Homo sapiens: one gene and its partners. The protein of the gene in region 4 purifies or fractionates together with the protein of the main gene of each other region. This does not show direct contact. Each region holds a gene or a part of one and is shown on either strand. Other genes may lie near its edges.

The links. The genes of interacting proteins can lie anywhere in the genome.
Region 1: the proteins of CCM2 (region 4) and GPR107 purify together in Homo sapiens (affinity purification with mass spectrometry; one large-scale study listed by BioGRID and IntAct). This does not show direct contact.
Region 2: the proteins of CCM2 (region 4) and PPEF1 purify together in Homo sapiens (affinity purification with mass spectrometry; one large-scale study listed by BioGRID and IntAct). This does not show direct contact.
Region 3: the proteins of CCM2 (region 4) and SQOR purify together in Homo sapiens (co-immunoprecipitation; one large-scale study listed by IntAct). This does not show direct contact.

What each region holds. Positions count from the first base shown.
Region 1 is NC_000009.12:130,098,906-130,102,405, reverse strand, and holds part of GPR107 (protein GPR107 isoform 3 precursor), read right to left. Parts: intron 2,950-3,500; coding exon 2,874-2,949; intron 1,778-2,873; coding exon 1,704-1,777; intron 1,301-1,703; coding exon 1,183-1,300; intron 1-1,182. UniProt on the Homo sapiens protein: Has been proposed to act as a receptor for neuronostatin, a peptide derived from the somatostatin/SST precursor.
Region 2 is NC_000023.11:18,801,645-18,805,144, reverse strand, and holds part of PPEF1 (serine/threonine-protein phosphatase with EF-hands 1), read right to left. Parts: intron 1,254-3,500; coding exon 1,068-1,253; intron 1-1,067. UniProt on the Homo sapiens protein: May have a role in the recovery or adaptation response of photoreceptors. May have a role in development.
Region 3 is NC_000015.10:45,641,529-45,645,028, reverse strand, and holds part of SQOR (sulfide:quinone oxidoreductase, mitochondrial), read right to left. Parts: intron 1-3,500. UniProt on the Homo sapiens protein: Catalyzes the oxidation of hydrogen sulfide with the help of a quinone, such as ubiquinone-10, giving rise to thiosulfate and ultimately to sulfane (molecular sulfur) atoms.
Region 4 is NC_000007.14:45,006,701-45,010,200, reverse strand, and holds part of CCM2 (cerebral cavernous malformations 2 protein), read right to left. Parts: intron 1-3,500. UniProt on the Homo sapiens protein: Component of the CCM signaling pathway which is a crucial regulator of heart and vessel formation and integrity. May act through the stabilization of endothelial cell junctions. May function as a scaffold protein for MAP2K3-MAP3K3 signaling.

The sequences.
Region 1 (3,500 bases), on a different chromosome or scaffold from region 4:
CAGGCTGGTGGGGGGAGACTCTAGAGGGATGAGGGACTCTACTAAAGGGAAGAGGCACACGCAGCCGGGTGACAACCCAGTCTCCGTCATTCACAACTCCGAGACCTCGGCAGGCTGTAGGACTCAGTCTGGCTGAAGAAGTGACCACGGTGGCTCGACAGCCGAAAGACCGGCACAGTCCCTCAGCATGTTTTGCTTAGCAGACAGCAGGGTCATGTGTATTTACTGCCTCTGTCACATTCCTTTCCTTCAACACCCAGGCCAGCCCTATCTCTGTCACAAAGCCCTCCTTGATCCTTCCAACTTGAGTGCTTATTCTCTCCTTGGAAACACAGAGCAACTGGCCTGTCCCATTCATTTGATGTCAACACATGTTCCTCATTATTGAACGTAAGGGTGGATGAGGTCTGTTAGAACTCCGAGAGGAGCTCTGCTGCAAACTCTGCCAGAGTTGGGACGGCTGATCTGGGTGCCTCAGGAGTTGTCCCCTTCCACCCCCAACCTTCCACATTTACTTTGTGCTCCAAAATGTGAGAAAAGTTCACAGGGACAACTCTGTCAAACAGACGCTGTCTGGTCAAGCAGAGCAGGGTAGCTGTGCATCCCTGCTAAAACCTCTCTGTTCATTGTAAGTTCTTTACATCCAAGTTCTGCTTCCAGTAAGACAAGGCTCCTCCCGCAAAAGACTCACAGCCTTGTAAGGCTGGCCTTGGCCCTCGGCCCCAAACATGGTAAGGATTTAGGAAATGTTTGCCCCTCACGTCTACTACCATATTCTACCTGTGGAAACTCACTGGTGTAGTTCACGGTTTTAAAATACTTTGTTAATAAAATCACTACATCTCTGAGCTTCCTTGCCAAGGGCACCATTTAGTTATGAAGCAAATGATGCAGAAGAGAAAACAGTACTGTGTGTTACTGTGTGTCTCCCTGTCACTGTCAGCAGCTCTCTACTCAAAATCTAGGCCCCCAAAGGCCAGTGGCTGACTGATGCCCAAGCATCTCCCAGTGCAATGACCTGAAGTCTGTTCAGAATTCAGAAAGAGAATCTCAGTCTTCAACCTCCACTAGCAGAAGCTGGGGTTTCAGGGTGAGGTGACTCCCTCTTCCCATACAGGCTTGGAGCTGAGCCCTGCTAAGCGCCAAGAAAGGAAGTGACAAATGGGATGAGGGTTCTTTTACCTGGAGTGGAATGACAATCATGAAGATCTTTTTGTCTTTATCAGAAAGGATGTGCTTAATGAAAGCCCAGCCAGTGCCAATGAGTGCAATGGTGATGAAGAGTAGCGCCCCTTTCAAACTGGAAGAGAAAACAAGGAACAGACACCAGCAGGTCTCTTTAGACTCTCACTGCCAGTTAGATTGCATAGCTCATTCTATGAGTTCACAAGCTTCTTACAAAAGACGGGCAGCCAAATTTAGGAAATCCATCATACATGAGCACCACTTCCTTCAGGGCACACAGTTAGCTCTGCACCCCACAGCCTGGACAGCCAATGGCCGCAGAGAGGCAGGAGTATGCCACTAAGCCCGACTTCCCAAGTCTGGACAGCCACCCATGAGCTACACTCCTCTGGTATGGCAGGGGCCCAGACAGGCTGCCACAGGAGGGCAGGGCTGGTTAACTTGGGGCAGGTTGTTGCCCACCCCCCTTGTCTTGTATGTCATTTCATGGTGTATTTCACATGGACCTGCATACTTACAGGTGAGTTATGTAGTACACAACAGCCCAGCCTTCGATAGGGAAGCCCTGGGAGGAGATGTAGTGGTAGTCAATCTGAAATCAAACAACTGCATTTCAGAATCACTCATTATCTACATGGCTCCACAAAGAATCTTTTAACTTGGACCCATTTGGGAAATTATCCAAATCATTGTCATTTGGTGACGCTGCCACTGGATATATTATTGCCTTTTCCAAGGAGGCCACTTTCAAGTACAGCAAAGAGTACATGTCTAGAGACTGTCATCCTTGCAAGTGTGCTCCACGGGCACTTGGAGGCCCACAGACAGGAGAAGTTGTGATCTTACCCCCTTGGGCAAGTTCATTTTAATTTGCATAAGTTCCAAATATACAAAGCTGAGGCTCAATTCTCATGCCTCCAGCTTTATAGCATCAATTTTCTCTCAGATAAATATGCTAATACTGAATTGAACTTCAAATCACAGAGGAACATGAGGGAATATCTGGAAACATAAAAAAGTCGTGGAGGCCGGGCGTGGTGGCTCATGCCTGTAATCCCAGCACTTTGGGAGGCTGAGGCGGGCGGATCACGAGGTCAGGAGATCGAGACCATCCTGGCTAACACGGTGAAACCCCGTCTCTACTAAAAATACAAAAAAATTAGCTGGGCGTGGTGGCGGGCGCCTGTAGTCCCAGCTACTCGGGAGACTCAGGCAGGAGAATGGCGTGAACCTGAGGGGAGGAGCTTGCAGTAAACAGAGATCACGCCACTGCACTCCAGCCTGGGCAACAGAGCGAGGCCCCGTCTCAAAAAAAAAAAAAAAAAAAAAAAAAAAAAAAAAAAAAAAAAAAAGTCGTGGAAACAAGTCAGCAGGTGGCACTCTCATCTCTAGAAATGGTAAAAAAACAAAACAAACCAAAAACAAAGAAATAAAAACAATAATAAGTGTTCTAGAAAAACTGTAGGTCTGTAAGCAGTATTAGAAGATGTCTGAAGTCTAATATGAGGGGAGGTGGTAATCATTTACCCGCATGGCCAGGCCCTCCCAGACAAGAGGAGGCTTTATGAGAAATGTATTCTTTGTCTTTGTTTCCCACCAATCTATCCCCTTTCTTCAAATTTCTTTTGCCTGCTCACACAGGCATTATACGTAATTTCATGAATGATCCTCAAAATGCTAATACATACTGCATGGAACACCAAGGAAAGAGACTTGGTGAAAGGAAGGGCCGCCATCAGCCAGTGGATTTTAAATACATCATTCCTATAAAAACAGAGAGAAAACAATTAAAGGAAGATTCCATTCTCCCAAAGGACAGCCAAAGCTCCAGACATTAGCTATATTTATAAGGAGACAGGAAATATAATCTGTGCAAACCACAAACATGAAACTTTTTTTTTTTTTTGAGACAGGGTCTTATTCTGTCGCCCAGGCTAGAGGACAGTGGTGTCATCACGGCTCACTGCAGCCTTGAACTCAGGCTCAAGCGATCAAGCAGCTCTCAGGAAGCTGAGGTGGGAGGATGGCTTTAGGTGTATGCCACCATGCCCAACTAATTTGTTTTGTATTTTTTATACAGAAAGGGTTTTGCTAAGTTTCCCAGGCTGGTCTTGAACCCCTGGCCAAGCAATCCACCCACTTCGGCCTCTCAAAGTGTTGATATTACAGGCATGAGCCACTGTACCCAGCTAAAACTTTTTTTTTTTGAGACAAGAGTATCGTTCTGTCACCCAGGCTGGAGTGCAGTGGCACAAACTTGGCTCCCCGCTAACTCCACCTCCCGGGATCAAGTGATGCCCCCCCACCGCCTCAAC
Region 2 (3,500 bases), on a different chromosome or scaffold from region 4:
CGTAGTGGCGGGCGCCTGTAATCCCAGCTTCTCGGGAGCATGAGGCAAGAGAATCACTTGAACTCGGGAGGCGGAGGTTGCAGTAAGCCGAGATTGCACCACTGCACTCCAGCCTGGACAACACAGCGAGACTCTGTCTCAAAAAAAAGAAAAAAGAAAAAAAAAAGAAACGGTGCATCCCAGAACAACTTGGGACAAGAAACCAGCTCCTCGGTCCTCACCTCTTTTAGCCTTTGATCAGACACCACTGAAGGAACACAACACACTCCGTTTTAGTGGCTGCAGCTAAACTGACTACAGTGAGCAACTTGCTGGAGGTCACCTACTCAGGGAGCTGAAGGGAAGTGTGTTTTGTGTTTTGGGCCCTGCACAGGGAACATGTAAAAAGTGCAAGAGCAAACTGGATTCACTGCTGCCTTTTATGCGCTCTGTGAGGAAAAGGACATTCTCAACCCCACTGTATGGGACAGTTGCCTTATAAGAACCAAGCCTTTCTGTGTGTCTACTTAGTGCCATGTATCAGAATTTCTGTTTCTGGGGCCAGGCGCGGTGGCTCACGACTGTAATCCCAGCACTTTGGGAAGCCGAGGCAGGCGGATCACCTGAGGTCAGGAGTTTGAGACCAGTCTGGCTAACATGGTGAAACCCTGTCTCTACTAAAAATACAAAAATTAGCTGGGTGTGGTGGCGCACACCTGTAATCCCAGCTACTTGGGTGGCTGAGGCACGAGAATCACTTGAACCCGGGAGGCGGAGGTTGCAGTGAGCTGAGATCACACCACTGCACTCCAACCTGGGTGGCAGAGTGAGACTCCATCTCAAAAAAAAAAAAAGAATTTCTGTTTCTGGGATTAGGGAAGATCAGGGAAATAAACCAAATATCTTTTAGGATAAGGGACAGTGAGGCCCCTTCAAACAACCTAGATGAAGCTCGCCTTCTCTGGTTTCTGTTTGGTACTAGAGAAGACATCTTCTCATGGGCTTCTAGGCCAGACATGCTCTGTGAAGAAAAGACTGTGCTTAGGGGAAGGATGTTTATGGGAATGTCACCAACAATTTTAGCTTACCTTCCCATCATGACAGATTTCATACCCTTCGGGCTTACATTCATGAGACCTGATGAGCATCTTCAACTGGTATTTATTAAGAATCTTGGAAGTAACATCTGGTCCAAAATAGCAGCCCCCTCCTCGGCACGTATTTGGAAAACAGCCATTTTTGCCTCTGGGATCACTCCACAGAATATCAATAATCTTGGAACAACAAACCAGATTTCGCTGTAACTTACAAGTGAGAGTATATCTTTCTAGATTCCAACTTATTTGTCAGAAATATTAACCCAAGGTATCCCAAAGACCACTTCTCATTCTTCCTTGAAAATTGTTTCAGGCCTGGCGTGGTGGCTCATGCCTGTGATCCCAGCACTTTGGGTGGCTGAGGTGGGAGGAGTGCTTGAGGCCAGGAGTTCAAGCCCAGCCTGGGCAACATGGTGAGACCTCAACTCTGCAAAAAATACAAAAATTAGCCAGGCATGGTGGTGCATGCCTATAGTCTCAGCTACTAGGGAGGCTGAGATGGGAGGATCACTTGAGCCTGAGAGGTTGAGGCTGCAGTGAGCCATGATCACTCCACTGCACTCCAGCCTGGGTGACAGACAGAGACCCTGTCTCAAAATTGTTGGGAGCAGGCCCCCCTAAAATCTGGCCATAAACTGGCCCCAAAACTAGCCATAAACAAAATCTCTGCAGCACTGTGACATGTTCATGATGGCCATAACGCCCACGCTGGAAGGTTGTGGGTTTACGGGAATGAAGGCAAGGAACACCTGGCCTGCCCAGGGCGGAAAACCGCTGAAAGGCATTCTTAAGCCACAAACAACAGCATGAGCGATCTGTGCCTTAGGGACATGCTCCTGCTGCAGTTAACAAGCCCAACCTATTCCTTTAATTTGGCCCATCCCTTCGTTTCCCATAAGGGATACTTTTAGTTAATTTAATATCTATAGAAACAATGCTAATGACTGGCTTGCTGTTAATAAATACGTGGGTAAATCTGTGTTTGGGGCTCTCAGCTCTGAAGGTTGTGAGACCCCTGATTTCCCACTTCACACCTCTATATTTCTGTGTGTGTCTTTAATTCCTCTAGCGCTGCTGGGTTAGGGTCTCCCCTACTGAGCTGGTCTCCGCAAAAAAGAAAAAGAAAAAAGAATATTGTTTCATATTCATCTCCTCCATGAATAACCAATACAGCAATAACAATAACCAAGAATCAGGCCTTGCCATTTTTTTTTTGTTTTTTTGGCTTTAAAAATTCCATCACAATTGTTTGACAATTGTTGAATCTACAAGGTTCTTTTCTCTTAAAAGAACTTCATTGTCACATTCAGGGAAGAAATTAGCTCCCCACAATGCCCACACATTAGGTGTGTCTTAATATGTTCAAAGACATAAAGTAGGTCTCCTGCTGTGGCTCTGGGCCAGGTTTTTGTCCTGTTGAGCACATAGCCTGAGGAAGCCCTTGCTGTTTCCCAACACAAATGTGGAAACCTGTTTATCTGAGGGTGTCTCCTAAAGCATCTCCTTCACTTTTCCCCCCTCGATGGTAAGTACATTCTCAGTTTCCGCAATACATTTAGTAAATGACTGGTTTCCATAATGTGTTCTAAATCCACAAGTGTTGTATTATTATAACATTTCCTTTGGGGCGCAGGAGAGGCAAATGCAGGTTACATGATGTCCAGGACTAAAGATCCAAATTTTTAAAATCATTTTTCTGCCAGGCACAGTGGCTTATGCCTGTAATCCCAGCACTTTGGGAGGCTGAGTCAGGAGGAATGCTTGGGTCCAGGAATTCAAGAGCAGCCTGGGTAAACATGGCAAAACCCCATCTCTACAAAAACTTAAAAAATAAAAACTAGCCAGGTGTGGTGGTGCCGGAATGTGTTCCCAGCTACTTGGGAGGCTGAAGTGAGAAGATCCCTGAGCCCAGGAGGTTGAGGCTGCAGTGAGCCATGTTCATGCCACTGCACTGTGGCCTCGGCAACAGAGCAAGACACCATCTCAAAATAAAACAAAATAATATTTTTCATAAAGATTGGAGGCTCCGTCTTTGTGGCTCTCATCTATCTGTAATGTTTCTTTTCTTTTCTTTTTTTTTTTTTTGTGATGGAGTCTCGCTCTGTCACCCAGGCTGGAGTACAGTGGCATGATCTCGGCTCACTGCAAACTCCGCCTCCTGGGTTCAAGTGGTTCTCCTGCCTCAGCCTCCTGAGTAGCTGGGATTACAAGGGCCCGCCACAACACCTGGCTAATTTTTGGTATTTTTGGTAGAGACAGGGTTTTACCGTGTTGGCCAGGCTGATCTCGAACCCCTGACCTCAGGTGATCGACCCACCTCGGCCTCCCAAGGTGTTGGGATTACAGGTGTGAGCCACTGCACCCGGCCTGTAATGTTTCTTTATTGAAACTTCTATAACAGCTTAAAGCGGTGAGAAAAACTCT
Region 3 (3,500 bases), on a different chromosome or scaffold from region 4:
GGTTTGACATTTTGGGGTCTTGCTAATCCCAGAGACTGCCCCTCCCAGGACTAGCTAACTCTGAGAGATGGTAAATGGCTTGCCTGGCTTGCCTATGACCACACCTTTGATATGTAAACCAATCAATCCAGAGCCATATTCTGAACCACCTCCTCTATTTGGCTTTAACCCTGCAAGAGGCAATTTTCCCCTGCCCTTATTATTCCAGGGCCAGGCATCAGACAACTACAACTATAGGCAGCTCATGAATCCTGGAGCACTCTAAAATTATTCAAACTAGCCAATCCCAAACCTAGCCAGCCCTTTCCCCTGCCTCACAATACAGTCTTTTGCCTGTTCTTTCCCCTCACTTTTTCTGCCCCTTCACCTACGCAGGTGCTTTCCCATATGGCCCCATGTGAGGTGTTATGCCTCCTGTTTCTAGGGAACTGTGAGTAAGAGCTTCTTCCTTCATGGCAGTCACCTCCTGATCTGTTGGCCTCACCATACTTGATTAAAACAAATCCCAGGTACGTTGTAATACATCTAGATTAAAATGCATGTGCCAACTATTCAGTCAGATGGAAGCTTTTACATGTTTAACACATTTTTGCTCGGCTTCTTCTCCTCACATATCCACTAAACTGTCAGGCGGCATCTTAAAAGCCAGGCGCGGTGGCTCATGCCTGTAATCCCAGCACTTTAGAAGGCCGAGGCAGGTGGATCACTTGAGGTCAGGAGTTTAAGACCAGCCTGGCCAACATGGTGAAACCCTGTCTCTGAAAAATACAAAAATTAGCCAGGCATGATGGCGGGTGCCTGTAATCCCAGCTACTCAGGAGGCTGAGGCAGGAGAAACGCTTGAACCTGGGAGGCAGAGGTTGCAGTGAGCCGAGATCGCGTCACTGCACTCCAGCCTGGGCACAACAGAGCAAGACTCCGTCTCAAAAAGGAGAAAAAAAAAATACGCCGTCTCTATGCCGTCTCTAAAATGCAATTTAATTACATAGTACCGAAGAATGTTACAATTTGTGGGTGATTGAGCTAAATTTTTATAAATTTTTGCAACTAAATAACATAGCTACAGTTTGAGTTTTTAAGGCAGTAACCGCTCTAGAAGAAGCAGCACGTGGCCTTCCTTTCCTTTGTCATATACTATCCTCCATTCTATTGAAACTTAAGATATCTTCTCCACCAAGAAAAATCTTCACATCTATTTTATCCATTTAACCTTGATAAAGGAGGGCATCAGCCAGAAGTGCTCAGAAAAGAAGGTGAGAAACAAGTTTTCTGCAGCATATAAGTCTATGTGCAAATTCAGGTTTATACCTACACTGAATTTGTCTCAATCACACAGGGGCTAAGTTTGCAGAACTGAAAATCAGGAAAGATAATCTAAGCTGAATTTTTATTAGGAGAATTTTTACCTGCGCAAATGATATACGATTAAATTACTTACATTTAGCTATGCTAAATATGTAAGTGTATCTTTGTGAAATAGACTTACATGAAATTCGCATGGTCACAATTCTGCTGCTGTTTAAGAATGTTTCCAGGCCAGGCATGGTGGCTCACGCCTGTAATCCCAACACTTTGGGAGGCTGAGGCAGGCGGATCATGAGGTCAGGAGATTGAGACCATCCTGGCTAACACAGTGAAACCCTATCTGTATTAAAAATACAAAAAATTAGCTGGGCGTGGTGGCACGCACCTGTAGTCCCAGCTACTTGGGAGACTGAAGCAGAAGAATTGCTTGAACCTGGGAGGCGGAGGCTGCAGTGAGCCGAGATCGCACCACTACACTCCAGCCTGGGTGACAGAGCAAGACTCCATCTCAAAAAGAAAAAAGAATGTGTCCACAAGTATTCATTGAGCGCCCACTGTATGTAAGGATGCAAGCTGAGAGACAGCAATTTCTCCAGGCCTGACCCCCTCCCACTCTTTTAGCTAGGGCATTGAGGCTTTACATGGGAAAACAAAGTTCTGGAAAGTGATCGCACAAAGGGGCAGCTTTGAGTAAGAGAATCTTCTGGTGTTGGAACAAATTAACCCTCCTGTTGGAGGAGAAACAAAACCAGTTTCACATGGGCTAATTTTGACAAATCAGTTAGGAGACTATTGGAGTGGTCCAGGTGTGAGCGATAAGCTCCTGAATTAGGTGTTAGCATTAGAAATGCAAACAAAGATTCAGATAAGATAGAGGCTGGGAAGAGAGAATAATTTCGGAAGACGTGGGAAAGGCTTCTGGAAGAAAAAAAAAAGTCAAAGTTGACATCTAGACAGCTGAAGAAAAAGGAATTATGTGAGCAGAAAAAGGGAAGTTATGTCAGGGACCTGTTCGGGCTACTTTTGGACAGTTGGGTTCAAGATTTTGAAAGGAGAATCACTTGCAATGAGAATCTCCTAACGGTGGATATAAAGGAGGGCAGTCTAGCGCTCTGGGAAGAGGGAGAAATGAGATTGGATAGGCATGTGTTACTAAAGTTTAGGTCTGAGAGCTTATTCCCAGACAATGGCAATTTGATCTAGGAGTCACAAAGCAGCAACCTGCAGGCCAAGTGCAGGCCAGAGCTGTGTTTTGCTTGGCTCACAGTGCTTTTCTTGAATTTTGAATTAGTCATCAACATTAAAAAATTTGGAGATCTCGACAAAAAATATTCCAGATTCTTGGCCTCTAACACTAAGCCCACATTCTCACATGGAAACTCTTGGCTGGAGCTGAGCAGTCATTGGTCTTCTCCACCATGCACAAGGTTTCAGTTCACTCCAGCCCCACTCAGCCTATGTTGTTCATTTGTTACCTGCTCAGCCCTGGTGTGCATTTCAGCCTGTGGTTACTGCTAATGGCAGTGAGAGCCCTTGGAAGGTCTTAATAAAACTGGATTTATAAAGAGTCCCCAGGGGAAGCTGAGAGGATGAACTGGAGCAATTCAGTTGAGTTCAGCATTTTTGATTGTTTACTAAATGCCAGGGATTGTGCTAGGCACTGCACAGCCAGTGATGGGTAAGAAGAGTCTGTCTGTTATAACAGGAAAGACCAGGAATATGAAGATCCATTAAGCGGCTGTTTCAGAAATTCAGGCACAGTGAGGGTGGGGTCTGAATGGGAACAGAGATGAGGGGTGTGAATGTGAGACACACATTGACATTTTTGCGACAATCAGCTATAGGGGATAAAGAAGAAGGAAGAATGTGAACGATGACATTATATCCACTTGTTCAGGTGAATATAATGAAGACAGGATGTGAGCAGCAATACTAGAATTACTCAAAGTGGAGTAAAGGTCCAAGGCACTGTGAGGGAGAAGGAAAGCACCCCCCTTGAAAACTGAATGAGTGTTGTTCCGAGAAAGGATAGCAGCTGTGCTCTTCCTCTTGGCACACCTCTGCTTGAGTAATGGCAGTGCTATTCTTGCCTTGTGTGTTCAGGAACTGGATTACTATACTGTTAACAAATAAAGAAAATGGAGCAATCTTCACTTAGCCCTGCAGGGCCATGTTGAAACTCTCCCTCTGGAGCT
Region 4 (3,500 bases):
AGTGGCTCACGCCTGTAATACCAACACTTTGGCAGGCCGAGACAGAAGGATTGCTTAAGCCCAGGAATTCAAGACCAGCCTGGGCAACACAGTGAGACCTCGTCTCTACAAAAAATAAAAAAAATTAGCTGGGCATGGTGACAAACCCATTTAGTCCTAGCTACTGAGGAGACTGGGGCGGGAGGATCACTTGAGTCTGGGAAGTCAAGGCTGCAGTGTGCCATGATTGCACCACGGCACTCCAGCCTCTGTGACAGAGTGAGACCCTGTTTAAAAAAAAAAAAAAAGTGTGTATTTCATTGTTACATAATTTTACATCAAAAGAAAACTGTAAGCAAATATTGAACCCTAGTTAATGACATGCATGCTAATGTATTTAGATCAAAGTGAAACAATGTCTGCAATTTATTGAGGAATGCATCAGAAAAATAAAATGAGTTGATGGGCAGGTACAGTGATAAACAAATGCTAGATATGGGATAAAACAAGTATAGCCAGGCCAGGCAGGGTGGCTCATGAGTGTAATCCCAGCACTTTGGGAGGCCGAGGTGGGCGGATCATCTGAGGTCAGGAGTTCTAGACCAGCCCCACCAACATGGTGAAACCCTATCTCTACTAAATACAAAAACTTAGCCAGGCGTGATGGCACATGCCTGTAATCCCAGCTGCTGGGGAGGCTGAGGCAGGAGAATCGCTTGAACAAAGGAGGCGGAGGTTGCAATGAGCCGAAATCACGCCATTGCACTCCATCCTAGGTGACAGAGTGAGACTCCGTCTCAAAAAAAAAAAAAAAAAAAACAAGTATAGCCAACGTTAGTGGCAGAATCTAGGTGCAAGTATTCACTGCAAAATTCTTTCAACTTTGGTGTACTCAAAAATTTTTTTTTTTTTTTTTTTTTTGAGACAGAGGCTCCCTCTGTCGCCCAGGCTGGAGTGCAATGGCGCAATCTTGGCTCACAGCAACCTCTGCCTCCCGGGTTCAAGCGATTCTCCTGCCTCAGCCTCTGGAGTAGCTGGGATTACAGGCACACACCACCATGCCCTGCTTATTTTTGTATTTTTGTAGAGATAGCATTTCGCCATGTTGGCCAGGCTGGTCTTGAACTTCTGATCTCAGGTGATCTGCCTGCCTTGGCCTTCTAAAGTGCTGGGATTAGAGGCGTGAGCACCGTGCCTGTCCCAAAAATTTTCATCATAAAATGCTGAGGGTGGAAGAATGTGCTGGAAAAAGCAAACACGGAGGCTGCACATACCTCTTTCAAGAAAGACGGACAATACTAAGTGAGAGGGGGAGCCTTAGAAAGGAACTTGAACTCAGCCTGATATTAGAAGTGCACAGGCAGGTGGGCTATGGTTATTGTCTATACCCAGTAGCATGAAAAGTAAAAGCTATGTAAAGGTGATGTATCTAATGGCAGTAATAAATTAGCTAGACATAATCATATCTAGGGCATTTTCAGACATCTGACAGAAAATCAACATGCACCATAACTGACACTTAGACCTGACCAAGGCATCTCATTAAGAACATGTACCCTTGGCCGGGTGCGGTGGCTCACGCCTGTAATCCCAGTACTTTGGGAGGCCGAGGTAGGTGGATCACCTGAGGTTGGGAGTTTGAGACCAGTCTGACCCACATGGAGAAACCCCGTCTCTACTAAAAATACAAAATTAGCCGGACTTGGTGGCGCATGCCTGTAATCCCAGCTACTTGGGAAGGCTGAGGCAGGAGAATCGCTTGAACCTGGGAGGTAGAGGTTGTGGTGAGCCGAGATCGCGCCACTGCACTCCAGCCTGGGCAAGAGCAAAACTGTCTCAAAAAAAAAAAAAAAAAAAAAAAAAAAGAACATGTACCCTTGGCCAGGCACGGTGGCACACAGAGGCACACATTGGTCAGGACTTCGGGAGGACGAGGCGGGTGGATCATGAGGTCAAGAGATCAAGACCATTCTTGCCAACATGGGGAAACCCCATCTCTACCAAAAATAAAAAAATTAGCCGGGCATGGGAACACGCACCTATAGTCCCAGCTACTTGGGAGGCTGAGGCAGAATTGCTTGAACCCAGGAGGCGGAGCCTGCAGTGAGCTGAGGTCATGCAACTGCACTCCAGCCTGGGCAGCAGAGCAAGACTCCACCTCAAAAAAAAAAAAAAAAAAAAATGTACCCCACCACATAAACCAACAAGGGAAACATTTCAGTTTCCACACCTGACCAGAGAGCTCATGGTGACAACACACAGGAAGCAAATTTGATTTTTTGAAAAAAACCTGTATGGAATTTTAAACTATAGAATAGACATAAAGATTTAAATAAAGGCTTCTCTCTTTTTTTTCTCCAAGGTACAAAAACAACATGTGAAATGGTTATCTCCCACTCCTCAACTAGGTTTCCCTTAAGAACAGTGACACCACGGGTTTAGGCTGACCAGTCTTCTCACTTTCAGAAAAGTGAAAAACCTCCTTGGGTTACAAGACACACCATCATCCTAAGCTGCAAACAAAAGCCCAAATTCCATGTTCCTATTATGCTTATTAAAGGGGATCACTTTCATTGCACATACATCTAATGCCTATGGTCAAATGCCCTAATTCTTAACATAATCCAAGCAAAAAATTGTTACTGTTTGGGCACACTTGGGAGAAAAAAAAAGGTCACATTTTTGGCACAGACACAAGGCTAAGGAAAAAAGTTCTTATTTTTACAAAACAAACAAACAAAAAATCCTAATGGTTCCATTGACAAATCCAAATGTAAACTCCCTCATACCTGTAGAATCATTTGAAGAGCAGTTGCTGTTCTTGATTGAAAGATAAAAAAGCCAAGGAGTGCGAAGCGCGCTAACAAAGATCCACTGTTCACAAGGACACAGCGATGCATGCAGAGGACATGGCTGGGCTCACTGCTCCCGCCACAGATCCCAGAGCACAAAGCCTGTCCCAGATGAAATGAATGACATCCCTGACTGTGCCAGCTCCCAAAACACCATACATGTTCTCCCAACCACAAAGAGTGTGCTGTGATTTATGGTTTACATACAGCACAGTGAGGGTTGTCCTGTCACTCTGAGCAGCTCGTCCGTGGCCATGTTGACAGTGTAGACTTGGTCCTCAGAACTCACCCCAGAGACCCTAAGGCAGCCAGCAGATGAGGCCAGAATGACCAGCAACATAAGGCTTGTTACTCTTCTGTCTTGATGAGTTACTACTGCACTTCTATCTACAAACTGAACTCTAGGGTTTGCTTCAAAATCACCTGGTGCATTAGCCTTCTTGGGCTGCCAGGACTAAGTATTATAGACTTGAGTGGCTTCAATAATAGAAACTTATTCTCTTAGAGTCTAGATGCTGAAAGTCCAAGATCAAGGTAAATTTAGCAGGGTGGTTTCTCCTGAGGTCTCTCCTTGGCTTGCAGATGGCTGCCTTCTCCATGAGTCCTCCAATGATCATTCCTCTCTGTGTCCTAATAACTTCCTATAAGGACATCCATCAGATTGGATTA